Homo sapiens: one gene and its partner. The protein of the gene in region 1 interacts with the protein of each later gene in a pairwise test. Each region holds a gene or a part of one and is shown in the gene's direction. Other genes may lie near its edges.

Evidence for each region. The genes of interacting proteins can lie anywhere in the genome.
Region 2: the proteins of SLC19A3 (region 1) and GET1 interact in binary tests that used the Homo sapiens proteins (3 or more experiments, as listed by UniProt).

The regions. Positions count from the first base shown.
Region 1 is NC_000002.12:227,694,003-227,701,028, reverse strand, and holds part of SLC19A3 (thiamine transporter 2), read left to right. Parts: coding exon of another isoform or gene 1-116; intron 117-1,464; coding exon 1,465-2,293; intron 2,294-4,947; coding exon 4,948-5,140; intron 5,141-7,026. UniProt on the Homo sapiens protein: Mediates high affinity thiamine uptake, probably via a proton anti-port mechanism. Has no folate transport activity. Mediates H(+)-dependent pyridoxine transport.
Region 2 is NC_000021.9:39,383,309-39,390,334, forward strand, and holds part of GET1 (guided entry of tail-anchored proteins factor 1), read left to right. Parts: intron 1-4,472; exon of another isoform or gene 4,473-4,547; intron 4,548-7,026. UniProt on the Homo sapiens protein: Required for the post-translational delivery of tail-anchored (TA) proteins to the endoplasmic reticulum (ER).

The DNA.
Region 1 (7,026 bases):
CTCGAGCCACTGTGGACCAGTTAACAGACCTTCCCTCCAAGGAGCAGCTCAGTTGTGTGGTCTTTGCTCTGTGGCCTCCTGCTTTCTCCAGCAACCTCAGTGATCCAGGTGTCAAGGTGGGTACGTTCAGTGATTTGAGAGGCTGCGGCACTCACCCATCCCTACAGATCAGCAACTCCAGTCCTTCCAACTGTGAAAATTGAGATCCCATGCATTTCTGACTAAATCTGTGAGATGATCCATATTAAATTGAGCCATAAACAAATCAGCAGAATTGTTAGGGGGAGCAGGGGGAAGGTTGGGAACCTAGCAAATTTGCCCATGAAGGAAAATGAGATACATTATTTGCTTCCACTCTATAATGTGGCAAAGTTATTTACTCTTTCCCTATTTTCCCATATCTTTCCAGATGTTGGAAGGGCTGAAATATTTGATGTAGTGATAGATCACATGAAAATAAAGGCTGTTGGATTCTTTTTGTTGTTGTTGTTCAGATGGAGTCTTGCTCTGTTGCCCAGGCTGGAGTACAGTGGCACAGTCTCGGCTCTCTGCAACCTCTGCCTCCTGGGTTCAAGCGATTCTCCTGCCTCAGCCTCCCAAGTAGCTGGGATTACAGGTGTCTGCCACCATTCATGGCTAATTTTTGTGTTTTTAGTTGTAGACGGGGTTTCATCATGTTGGCCAGGCTGGTCTCGAACTCCTGACCTCGTGATCTGCCTGCCTCGGCCTCCCAAGGTGCTGGGATTACAGGTGTGAGCCACCATGCCTGGCCTGGATTCTTTTAACATTGTGGTCTACTTGTCTAATGTTAATATTCAAACAAGAAGGAAATTATATTTTTTAAGAATCTTGGGCCGGGCACGGTGGCTCACGCCTATAATCCCAGCACTTTGGGAGGCCGAGGTGGGCGGATCACCTAAGTTCAGGAGTTCAAGATCAACCTGATCAACATGGTGAAACCCCGTCTCTTCTAAAATACAAAAATTAGCCAGGCATGATGGCGGGTGCCTGTAATCCCAGCTACTCAGGAGGCTGAGATGGGAGAATGGCTTGAACCTGGGAGATGGTGGTTGCAGTCAGCGAAGATCGGGCCACTGCACTCCAGCCTGGGCAGCTGAGCAAGACTCCACCTCAAAAAAAAAGAATCGGAAAATCTTAGAAGTGTCCAAAAACTTTTTAACTCATCTACTCAACTGTACATACTATCTAAACTTAATACATAATTCAGATTGCACAATAAGCCAATATATTTTTCTGCCGGGGTTTATCTAAGTGTGTACATTGGTTTTTACCAATGGGAAAGGAGACTATCTTTTCTTGTGATTTCCTTGAAAATCAGTTTTCTCATTATGTTTCTCCGTAATGCGAATAATTTCCAATTGGAGGCAGAATTTGAGATACAAACCACAGGTACCTTAGTAAAGTACCGGTGCTTCGTGGTCATGCAATTTACCAACTTTGCAGATAACAAATGAGATCTTCCCCGTTTGGACATACTCCTACCTGGTGCTGCTGCTGCCTGTGTTTGTCCTCACCGATTATGTCCGCTACAAGCCAGTCATCATCTTGCAAGGTATCAGTTTCATCATTACCTGGCTGCTGCTGTTGTTTGGCCAAGGAGTGAAGACCATGCAGGTTGTAGAGTTCTTCTATGGGATGGTCACCGCCGCCGAGGTGGCCTACTACGCCTACATATACAGCGTGGTCAGCCCCGAGCACTACCAGAGAGTGAGCGGCTACTGCAGGAGCGTCACGCTGGCCGCCTACACAGCAGGGTCGGTGCTGGCTCAACTCTTGGTATCCCTGGCGAACATGTCGTACTTTTACCTCAACGTCATATCCTTGGCCTCTGTCTCCGTGGCTTTCCTTTTCTCACTTTTCCTACCAATGCCCAAGAAAAGCATGTTTTTTCATGCAAAACCCAGCAGAGAAATAAAGAAGTCATCAAGCGTGAATCCAGTATTAGAGGAAACTCACGAAGGTGAAGCACCAGGCTGTGAAGAGCAGAAACCCACATCAGAAATACTCAGCACTTCAGGGAAGCTGAATAAGGGCCAGCTGAACAGCCTGAAACCAAGCAATGTGACTGTGGACGTTTTTGTGCAGTGGTTCCAAGATTTGAAGGAGTGCTACTCCTCAAAACGTCTTTTCTACTGGTCTCTATGGTGGGCTTTCGCCACAGCAGGTTTTAACCAGGTTTTGAACTATGTTCAAATCCTGTGGGATTACAAGGCGCCATCCCAAGATTCTTCCATCTATAATGGGGCCGTAGAAGCTATTGCAACCTTTGGAGGTAAGCAAATGTCACTTAATCTTCCTTTGTTGGCTTTACCCGCTTAAGTCCATTCCTCCAGGTACCGAACTTCATGGCAGCGAATTAGCTCTGTTCAGAAGGAAGCATAACTTTTTTCAGTCAAGAATGAAAGTCACGGCCGGGCATGGTGGCTTATGCCTGTAATCCCAGCACTTTGGGAAGCTGAGACGCGTGGATCACGATTTCAGGAGGTCGAGACCATCCTGGCTAATGCAGTGAAACCCCGTCTCTACTAAAAATACAAAAAATAAAATAGGTAGGCGTGGTGGCGGGCACCTGTAGTCCCAGCACTTTGGGAGGCCGAGGCTGGCGAATCACGAGGACAGGAGATGGAGACCATCCTGGCTAACACGGTGAAACCCCATCTCTACTAAAAATACAAAGAAATTAGCCGGTCATGGTGGCGGATGCCTGTAGTCCCAGCTACTTGGGAGGCTGAGGCAGGAGAATGGCATGAACCTGGGAGGCTGAGCTTGCAGTGAGCCTAGATCGTGCCACTGCACTCCAGCCTGGATGACAGAGCGAGACTCCTCTCAAAAAAATAAAAATAAAAATAAAAAGAATGAAAGTCACTGGAAAAATAAGAATACTGTGACTTTCTATTGTGTTGTAGTTACAAGTAACTTTTTTATTTTTTGAGACAGAGCCTCACTCTGTCACCAAGCTGGAATGCAGTGGTGCGATCTCAGCTCACTGCAACCTCTGCCTCCCAGGTTCAAGCTATTCTCCTGCCTCAGCCTCCTGAGTAGCTGGGACTACAGGCACGTGCCACCATGCCCAGCTAAATTTTTTTGTATTTTTAGTAGAGACGGGGTTTCACCATGTTGCCCAGGATGGTCTCAATCTCTTGACCTCATGATCTACCCGCCTCAGCCTCCAAAAGTGCTGGGATTACAGGCGTGAGCCACCACGCCCAGCCACAAGAAGTAACTCTTAGGAGCTCAGGGATTAGCACCAAACAATGAAATTCTAGTTGAATCCCTAAGATTCCAATTCATCATTAGCACAAAGGTTAATAACATGCCCTGTTCTTTTAGGATTATTTTTAATATCAAAATATATACATATATGTGTATATGTTTTCATTATTTTAGAAAATAAATTAAGGATTCCAAATTCTCACTGAGGGTTTTGTTAATACAGGATTTGAACTAGCTAGCATGCACCTATAACAATTCTAGGCTATACACCAACAACTTTCAAAAGCAGCTTTCTCATGGTATTTAAATGAGGGCTGGAAGAGATGTGAAAGTCAGGATTTTAATATCAGAGGGAAATCTGTCTTTGAAGTTTAATCTACAATAAATGTTTATTTCCTAGTAACTGGAAGCTTAAATGTCAAATGAGACTTTGAAGATATTTTTTAGGAAGTGAGAATTCGCCCCACCCTCATTTACAAAAAGTTTTAGAAAACCCGTGTGACCTCTATTTTATTATTATCTCCCTTTTGGGAAGCTTCAGTTTAACTCCTGGAAACCAGGACTGTGCCAGAATTGCTTCACTGAAATTATTGCTCCTACATTCCAAATCCATGGGGGGAAAAATAGTTATTTTTTTTTTCCTCTGTGGTCATGATCACATGTGGGAAAGTTAGTCATATGTCAATGTAGTAATTTGAAATCTAAATACCTTTTGTTTATTTATTTATTTTAGACAGAGTCTTACTCTGTCACCCAGGCTGGATTGCAGTGGCATGATTTCAGCTCATTGCAAACTCTGCCTCCAGGGTTCAAGTGATTCTCCTGCCTCAGCCTCCTGAGTAGCTGGGATTGCAGGTGCCCGCCACCATGCTGGCTAATTTTTGTATTTTTAGTAGAGCTGGAGTTTCACCATGTTGGCCAGGCTGGTCTCTAACTCCTGACCTCAAGTGATCCACCCCCTTCAGCCTCCCAAAGTGCTGGGATTACAGGAGTGCGCCACTGTCCCCAGCCCTAAATACCTTTTACCTTTGTTAAAGAGAACCACACAAAAGTGCTAACCCTAATTACTGTCAATTATTTCAATTTCTTGAACTCTGTAAGTCTATATAGATATTTTCACCCAAAGCTTCTCAAGTAAATTATGTCAGATGTTGAAGACTTTAGAGTGGAGATTGGAAATAAGACTAAGATTACTAAAGGTTCATAATAAAGACTAAAACTGGGTAGGGCAAGAAAAAAGACTAAAACTTTCAATGTAACACATCTGATACTCATCACTGAAAAAGACTTACAGCAAAAACTGAGAAAAGAAAGGCAAATAGAGAGGCCAGTGTATTCCCAGAGAATTTATTTCATCCTTTTCCATCCCTGCATGTTGTACTGAGTGACTAGGTTAATGTATCATTTCTCCTTACACTGCTGTGGTTAGGAACCTTTCTGGCCCCTCTGCAGAATACAGTGTCTGGCGTGTAGTTGATGCTAATTAAAAGTATGGTGACTAAGTGACCGAAAGAATAGCAAGTGAAAAGAAAAGCCAAAAGAAGACACGCTTGAGAAAAGGATAGATCCACATTCAGGTCGATCACACAATTTTGTGAAAGCAATATATTTATCTTTCAGAATTACCCGAGACCTGGGTTTTTAAGAGAGGGTGTTGATATTTTCCTGCATGCAAAGTCATTATGTTTGATTGCCTTCAATGTTTTTTTTCAGGGGCTGTGGCTGCCTTTGCAGTGGGTTATGTGAAAGTCAACTGGGACCTTCTGGGAGAGCTGGCTCTGGTGGTCTTCTCAGTTGTCAATGCCGGTTCTTTATTTCTCATGCATTACACAGCCAATATCTGGGCGTGCTATGCTGGCTATTTGATATTCAAGTCCAGCTATATGCTTCTTATAACCATAGCAGTGTAAGTTTTACCAACCACTCCTAAAACTGAACTGTATTCCTCTCTCTTCTGTCTTTCTAAACTTTCTCTAAGAACTTCAGAAGGATTTTAGTCAATTGCAATATTAAATGTTGACTGCTTTATATTAAATTAGACACAACTAAGCCAACTTTTCATTTAACTATTTGCTCTCTGAATATTGCTACAATATACCTTAAGTCATCAAGGGAAAAAACTCTGTAGGTTTATAGACCAAAAGCAGTGATACATTGTCAGGTTTTTCTTTTTGTTTTATTTTGTTTGAGAGATGGCCTGGCTCTCTTGCCCAGGCTGGAGAGCAGTGGTGCGATCACGATCAGGACTCAATGCAGCCTTGACTTCCCAGGCTCAGGTGAGTCCCCAACCTCAACCTCCTGAGTAGCTGGGATGACAAGCATGTGCCACCATGCCTAGCTAATTTTTCGTATTTTGTAGAGATGGGGTTTCACCATGTTGCTCAGGCTGGTCCCAAACTCCTGGGCTCAAGCGATCCACCTGCCCTGGCTTCCCAAAGTGCTGGAATTACAGGTGTGAGCCACTACATCTGGCATCATTGTCAGGATTTGATTTGTTTATTTCCAGCAACTTTCTACATAAAGTGTGATGTGATCTGCTTTCAAATGGTTAGGTTTAGATTTCATTCCTACTTTCATTTGTTTGCTTGAGAAATTCTAAGCACATACTTTTATGACACAAAAGATTCTCAGGAAAGTTATTAAAAAGTTGGATACTAAAAAAAGTAGATGCAAAGATAACAAGAAACCTTTAGCTGCAGTCGTGTATGGAACCAAGCAGTTTTTCTTTTCTTTTGTTCTTTTTGAGACAGGGTCTCACCCAGGCAGGAGTGCAGTGGTGCAATCATAGCACACCACAATCTTGATCTCCTGGGCTCAAGCAGTCCTCCCACCTCAGCCTCCTGAGTAGCTGAAACTACTGGTGCACACCACCATGCCTGGCTAAATTTTTAATTTTCATTTTTGTAGAGACAGAGTGTCACTGTGTTCCCCAGGCTGGTCTCAAACTCCTGGGCTCAAGTAATCCTCTGGCCTCAGCTTCCCAAAGTGGTAGGATTACAGGTGTGAGCCACCACGCCAGATCTAGTTTTCAGTCATTTTCTAAAAATAATTTCTGGGATTTAGAATTTCCCGTCATTTTTGCTTCTACTTTTTTCTCAGAGATCTCTTTAAGAAAATGATTAAAAAACCATTCGGTTTCATATAAAAGTACAGCTAAAGCTGACTACAGAAAATATGCTTTGCTATTAACCAAAAAAAATGAGAAACATTTGAATTTCAAATTGCATGAAAGAAGTGGAGACAAAAGCTTCATCAAGTTTTGCTTTCAATTTGTGAAGAATGTTTTATAAACAATTTACAACACAGAAATATGAGCACTCTGGGAAAAAATCATCAAAGGAAAAAACAATTAGTTGGTATGTTTATTTTCTTCATGGAAATGTCTTAATTTAATCAGAATCATGTATCTTAGGTTGCTTTTTTTTAAATGTGAAGATTTTGTTAAAGTAGGATTATATCATTTCTTTGCATTAAAAAAAAATATTCACGGCTGGGCACAGTGGCTCCCGCCTGTAATCCCAGCACTTTGGGAGGCCAAAGCAGGTGGATCACCTGAGGTCAGGAGTTCGAGACCAGCCTGGCCAATATGATTAAACCCCGTATCTACTAAAAATACAAAAATTAGCTGGGCATGGTGGTGAGAACCTGTAATCCCTGCTACTGGGGAGGCTGAGGCAGGAGAATCCCTTGAACCTGGGAGGCAGAGGTTGCACATTCTCATCAGCATTTATTGCTTGTTTTTTGGATAAAAGCCATTCAAATTGAAGTGAGATAATATCTCATTGTAGTTTT
Region 2 (7,026 bases), on another chromosome or scaffold:
CTTGCTCTTGTTGCCCAGGCTGGAGTGCAATGGCGCAATCTCAGCTCACTGCAACCTCTGCCCCCCGAGTTCAAGAGATTCTCCTGCCTCAGCTTCCCAAGTAGCTGGGATTACAGGTGCCCGCCACTATGCCCGGCTAATTTTTGTATTTTTAGTAGAGACGAGGTTTCACCATGTTGGCCAGGCTGGTCTCGAACTCCTGATCTCCGGTGATCTGCCCACCTTGGCCTCCCAAAGTGCTGGGATTACAGGTGTGAGCCACTGCACCCAGCTAATTTTTATTTTTTTGAGAGGGAGTCTCTCTCTGTCACCCAGGCTGGAGTGCAGTGGCTCAATCTTGGCTCACTGCAACCTCCGCCTCCCAGGTTCAAGCAATTCTTCTGTCTCAGCCTTCCAGGTAGCTGGGATTACAGGTTTGAGCCACTGCGCCCAGCTAATTTTTATTTTTTTGAGAGGGAGTCTCTCTCTGTCACCCAGGCTGGAGTGCAGTGGCTCAATCTTGGCTCACTGCAACCTCCGCCTCCCAGGTTCAAGCAATTCTTCTGTCTCAGCCTTCCAGGTAGCTGGGATTACAGGTGCATGCCACCATGCTGGGCTAATTTTTGTATTTTTAGTAGAGACGGGGTTTTGCCATGTTGGCGAGGCTGGTCTCGAACTCCTGACCTCAGGTGATCCACCTGCCTGGGCCTCCCAAAGTACTGGGATTACAGGCGTGAGCCACCACCCCCGGCCTTTTTTTTTTTTTGTAATACTAACCATTCTAATGGACGTAAGGTGGTGTCTCATTTTAGTTTTGATTTGCATTTCCCTAATAGTGATGTTGAGTATCTTTTCAGATGCTTATGGCCATCTGTTTATCTTTGGAGACATGTCTAGTCAAATCTTTTGCCCCCTTTTAAAATCCAGTTGTTTTTTGTTGTTGAGTTCCTTTTGTTGTTGTTATTATTATTATTATTATTATTTTTTGAGACAGAGTTTTGCTCTTTTGCCGAGGCTGGAGTGCAGTGGCGCTATCTCGGCTCACTGCAACCTCTGCCTCCTGGGTTCAAGCGATTCTCCTGCCTTAGCCTCCCGAGTAGCTGGGATTACATGCATGCACCACCACACCTAGCTAATTTTTGTATTTTTTTTAGTAGAAAGAGGGTTTCACCATGTTGGCCTGGCTGGTCTCGAACTCCTGACCTAAGGTGATCCACCTGCCTCAGCCTCCCAAAGTGCGGAGATTACAGCTGTGAGCCACCACACCTGGCCGACAATTTTTTTTTTTTTTTTTAACTTTTAAGTTCAGGGATACATGTGCGGGTTTGTTATATAGGTAAACTTGTGTCATGGGTGTTTGTTGTACAGATTATTTCGTCACCCAGTTATTAAGTCTAGTATTCATTAGTTATTTTTCCTGATTGTCTCCCTCCCACCCCCTATCCTCCACCCTCCAAAATAGAAAAATTTGTTTTTAGAGGCCGGGTCTTGCTCTGTGACTCAGGACCTGTGGCCACATCCTGTGCTGCCTCATACAACCTTATGGCCTCTCTAACCTCAACCCAGTTAGCTTTCCTAAACCCATTTCCCTATGATTGTTAACACTTGTTGTTAGCCAGGTTCAGAAGGATAACATAATTATTATCCCAGCAGAGTACACCCACCCTGTAATCGGTAAGAGAGATGTTTGGCCTGGTCACTGGGTTTGTGGTGAGAGTCTGTGAAAAGCTGTAAGGAACGCGCTGGTCTTCAGTAGGGTCAAATGCTGCTCCTTCACCATCGTCAGAGGCTACTTCATCACAGCCTCTCTGATTTGAGGATTCAAGTGGGAAAGACTCATGACAAGCAGCAGAAAGTCGAATTGGGAAAACAGTGCCCTCAGGGATGGGGCCGCGCTCAGGTACTTAGATTATAACCTCCGTTGGGATGTTTCTGAAGCTTTCGTCTTAGCAGAAGTTAGGGAGGCAGCACCCCGATCTCAGCACTCAGTCTAGGCCGCACTGGTCCCCGCACTGGTCTCCCCCCTCCCCCCGCGTGAGGCCTTAGGAGGTCTGAAGTATCAGAAGTCCTTGGGCCAGTTAAGCCTAGCAAGGTCCTGGGAGGCGATCTCAGCTGTCCGCTGCGGTGGGGGTGGGATGCCTGGTAAGGACACCAAGTCCGTGGTGTTGGCGTGGTTGGAATTTTCCTGGGATCGCTCCCTTCTCTTCAAGCTGGTCACGGGGACGCATGGTTGAGAGCGCCTAGTTCATTCAGTAGGTGGTCCAGGACTTTCTTCAGCTATAGAGGGGAACAAAGACGCCTTTGGTGAGCACCGGCTCTGCAGCTCTGCGGGTGCAGGGGAGGTGTACTGCGTAGGTGCCCCAGGACTGGCGGGGGCTGAGGGTCCATGCGAACGGCACTACTACGCAGGCGTCGCAGGACTGGCCCGGGCTCAAGGTCCGTGCAAACTGCATGCACTGCGCAGGTGCTCCAGGACTCGCGCGGGGTCAAAGTCCATGCAAGCCGCACGCACTGCACAGGTGCCCCAGGACTGGCACGGGCTCAGAGTCCACGCATACCGCACACACTGCGCAGGCGCTCCAGGACTGGCGCGGGCTCAGAGTCTATGCAAACCGCATACACTGTGCAGGCGCCCTAGGACTGGCGCTGGCTCAGGGTCCCTGCGAGCTGCACGCACTGCGCAGGCGCCCCAGAGCTGGTGTGGGCTGAGTGGCCACACGAGCCACATGCACTGCGCAGGCGCCAGGAGGCCCTTCCTCTCAATCCGAGCTTTGCAGATGAAGGACTCTGCGTGTGTTGCCTTCTGGGCTTACGGGCCGAGTGCCCTTTGAGATTCAACTTTTTCTAAATTATCCTTCACTTTCTGCTGTAAAGAGTGGCCACCTCCTTTTTCCTCTAGGGGACTGAAGCGAGAGGAGGATATTGCAGGGTTTGCCTCTGTGGTCATCTTCTTAGAGAGCACCCCCTCCGCCCCCACACCCTTTTCCTCAGAGCCGTTGCTTAGTGAGTCCCTGCCATGGACCAGGCTTGGGAATGGTCCCCAAGTATTAGTTTAGGAGGACGACTCTCTGCTTCACAGGACCTACCCCAGAATCCTGTGACTCAGAAGCGCGCTTGTGAAGTGCGCATGTGCGGGCAGGGCCTCCAGTGGGGCTCTCGTGGGGGCAGCAGCCAAGGACTGGGGCTGGTGGCCTGGAGAGCTGCCCGCTTCTCCGCCCTTGCCGGTAGGGTTCCTGGCCGAGAGTGGCATCTGGGGCTGTTCAGGGTCTGGAGCTTCCTGAGTTGGAAGACCCTGTCCTCTGTGTTCAGGGACTCAGGGTGACCTGAGTTGGTGGTTCCTGGGTTTGCCTGCTCTACTGCTGGCAGGGACTAGCACGGGGTGTGCACGTTGTCATGCCATCAATTAATTCAGAGATTCACTTTTGTTCTAAAAATTAATATTTGCATTATTACATTTAGATTCATATTAAATCTTACACTGCATGATTCTAGAACATTTTAACACTTATACGTGGGTCTTGGATTAACATTGATACATATTTGCAAATTTATACTTTAAAACTTTTTTTTTTTTAGAGACAGGGTCTCACTCTGTTGCCAAGGCTGTAGTGTGGTGGTGCCATCATAACTCACAGCAGCCTCAACCTTTCGGGCTCAAGTGATCCCTCCCTCCCCGCCTCAGCCTCCTGAGTAGCTGGGGCCACACGGACCACAGGCGTGCACCACCACACCTGACTAATTTTTAATTTTTTGGTAGAGATTGGGTCTTGCTATGTTGCCCCGCCTGGTCTCGAACTCCTGGGCTCAAACGATCTTCCCGCGTCAGTCTCCGAAAGTGCTGGGATTACTGCACTGCGCCTGGCTCAGACAGTTTTTATTGTGCTTATACATGTAATAGATGTAATTATTTTTTCAAGCACCAGTTGTTTTTGTTAACCTTACAAAGCTGCCTTCAGTTTTCCTGAAGTTCACCCTTCTGCCTTCACTCACCTCCCATTCCTGAGTTGTTTTGTGTATTCCCTATAATGCTAAATAATGTCTTGGAATCTCTTTTTCTTTTTAAAATATGGTTTTAAAAGTCAGATTTATTGAAGTGTAATTTGTATAAGGCGAAATTATCAAAAAGTCCTTAGCAGTGTCTGTAGATTTTCCTTGCTTTTGAAAGATAATTTTGTGATTCATCTAAGAGAATTTGGCCCATTCCTATTTCCTTCTCCAGAGTGGATCAGGCTGGAGTATAGCTCCTTCGGTTATAGTGCTGGGTAGTGGCCAGGGCAGAGGCACCACAAAGAGAGCTGGATTTGAACCCCCTACTCCCTGCGCAAAGGCTGCCAGAAGCTGCGCTGCAGTGAACACGCTGCGCATGAGCCCCTAGACCCCTCCACCCCCCCTACTCCCCACACTCCCCCCCCCCACTTTTGCCTCATCACGCAGGCGCTGGTAGGCGGCATCACTGGGCGGGTCAGAAACCACGCGCATGCGCAGACACCCTCAGGCGACTGGCGGGTCGCGGCTTCCAAGCTCTAAATGGAGAGTTGTCCCTACTGTGCGGCAGGCGGAGGAGACCTGTAAGCTGGAAGGGGGAGGGGGGGGGATCTGATTTATTGTGTGCCAGGCACACTTTAGATACACTATAACATTTCGTCTTTATTAATCTATTTTTAAAATTTCGAAACAAACACAAATGTGCAGAAAAGTTATATACAGTCAATACCGATAACTGATTTTGTTTCCTGAACCATTTGGAAGTTGTCAACCCAAACCCCCTCATTCCGAGATACTTTGGTATTCAAAAGAATCTTGGGGGCCGGGCACAGTGGCTCACGCCTTTAATCCCAGCACTTTGGGAGGCCGAGGCTGGCGGATCGCTTGAGCTCAGGAGTTCACTGGCAACATAGTGAAACCGTGTGTCTACTAAAACTAAAAAAAAATTAGTCGAGTGTGGTGGTGCAGGCCTGTAGTCCCAGATGCTCAGGAGGCTCAGGTGGGAGTATCGCTTGAGCCCAGGAAGTCGAGGTTGCAGTGAGCCGAGATCTAATGCAGGCGTCAAGTACGTTACCACGATCTGATCCTCAGACCCCATGCAGGTTCCCCACGTTTCGCAGTAATGTCCTTAACAGGGAAAGGACCCAGTTCGGAATCATGCATTGCATTTCCCGGCCTCTAGCCTCCTGTCTGGAGGAGTTTCCCAGTCTTCCCTTGACTTTCATGGCTGTCATTTGTGGGTGTCAGAGGCCAGTGATTTCGCAGAAGGGACGCCTACTGGCATGTCTGATACTTGGTAGGGATTTCTGAGAGGCAGTGCTGTGTTCTCATTGTGTCTCATCCGCTGGTGTGGGACTGGGATTTGGGGATGTTCGCTGATCCCTTGGGGTAGGTGCCAGAGGCGCCACTGAGGGATCTGGTCTTGGGGCGCCCGCGCAGTCCTTGGACTAGGCCTTCCCGGCAGATCTGCGGGCGCCACCTGGCGGTCACTGCCGACTCCTCCGTTGCGCTCCAGTCACCTCTCCCATCCCGGTGCCGTGGCCGGGCCGTTCCCTGGAGAGTGGACGGCTGGGGCTGGTGCAGGGAACAGGGGCCTGCGGGGGCTGCGCAGGCGGGCCTCCAGGTCATGCGGGGCCCCTCTGCTCACAGGGACCAGCCAGGCCAGCCTGGGGAGCGTGCTTCTTTGTTTATGTCTGTATTTCTCTGCCTATCTGTGGAAACCACAGATCTCCAATTGAAGCCAACACCACAAGATTCATTCTGCTTCTCTCCGAGACGCCTGCCTGCCTGCCTTCCTTCCTTCCTTCCTCCCTCCCTTCCTCCCTTCTTCCCTTCCTTCCTTCACCAGGTTATGAAAGTGGCTAATTTTTCATATTTTTTGTAGAGACAGGGTTTCACCATGTTGCCAAGGCTGGTCTTGAACTCCTGGGCTCAAGCGATTCACCTGCCTTGGCCTCCCAAAGTGCTGGGATTATTGGCATGAGACACCGAACCTGGCCTTTTTTCTTTTGTCCCCCTTTTTTTTTTGAGACAAGGTCTCACCCTGTCGCCCAGGCTGGAGTCCCATGGCATGATCTCAGCTCACTGTAGCCTTGAACTCCTGTATACAAGAGATCCTCCCACCCCGGCCTCCAGAGTGTTAGGGTTGCAGGCCGAGCCACCATGCCAGGCTGAGGCATCTTTCTAAGTGTCTTTGTTGAAAGTGAGAAGACTGGCTTCCGTTACTCTCAATATGTTTATTTCTGTGATCACCCTTTTGTAATTAATCTCTGGTGTCCACCGCCCACTGTTACCCAAGTGAATGCATGCCTCTCCCCACCTGGGCTCCGACCCTGGCAGGGTTCCTTCTTGTCTTGTATGTCTGTCTCCCTCACCCTACAGACCCTGACTCCTGTGTCAGGCTGCCCTTTCTTGGGGACCCCTGTATCACCATGCCTGGCCCTGATGCCTCTTGCCAGGGTGCCATTCTGTGGGAAGGCCCTCTGCACTGAGCTTGGGCACTGACATTCTGCCCTGGGCCCCTGCCTCACCACTGTTACCCTGCACCTGCACCTTGCTCTGCCCCGTCTAATCTAGGACTGAATTCTTCTGGGAGGGGAGAGGTTACATGTTCCCTGTCACTGGAATAACAGCTCTGGTGATGGAATTGGTTTTCATTTCACAATTGCAATTTTATTTATAGTGAAACAGACAAACATTTGTATTGGAGCAAATTCATGGGCATATCTGTAAAAGGAAAAATATAGTTTGAATAGCAATTTGAATATGAGTTTTTTTTTTTTTTTTTTTTGTGGTCGTTATAGGGAGCCGAAAAAGGCAGCAGAGGCTGGCTGTGTAGGTAGAGGGCAGCTTGCCCAGTTGGCAGAGGTGGGAGTAGGATGTTGGAGGAAGGTGTACCGGTTCTGTCTGGCCAAACCCATGCTGGAGTCACCTCAAAAGCAGTGGCAGGGGAGTTCCCTCAAGGGGCTGCTCCAGACTGCCTGGAGATGGGGCTGGCTTGGATTCCAAAGAAAGAAGCACTAAACGCCAGGGTGATAAGTCCACAGCATTCATGACGGGAAC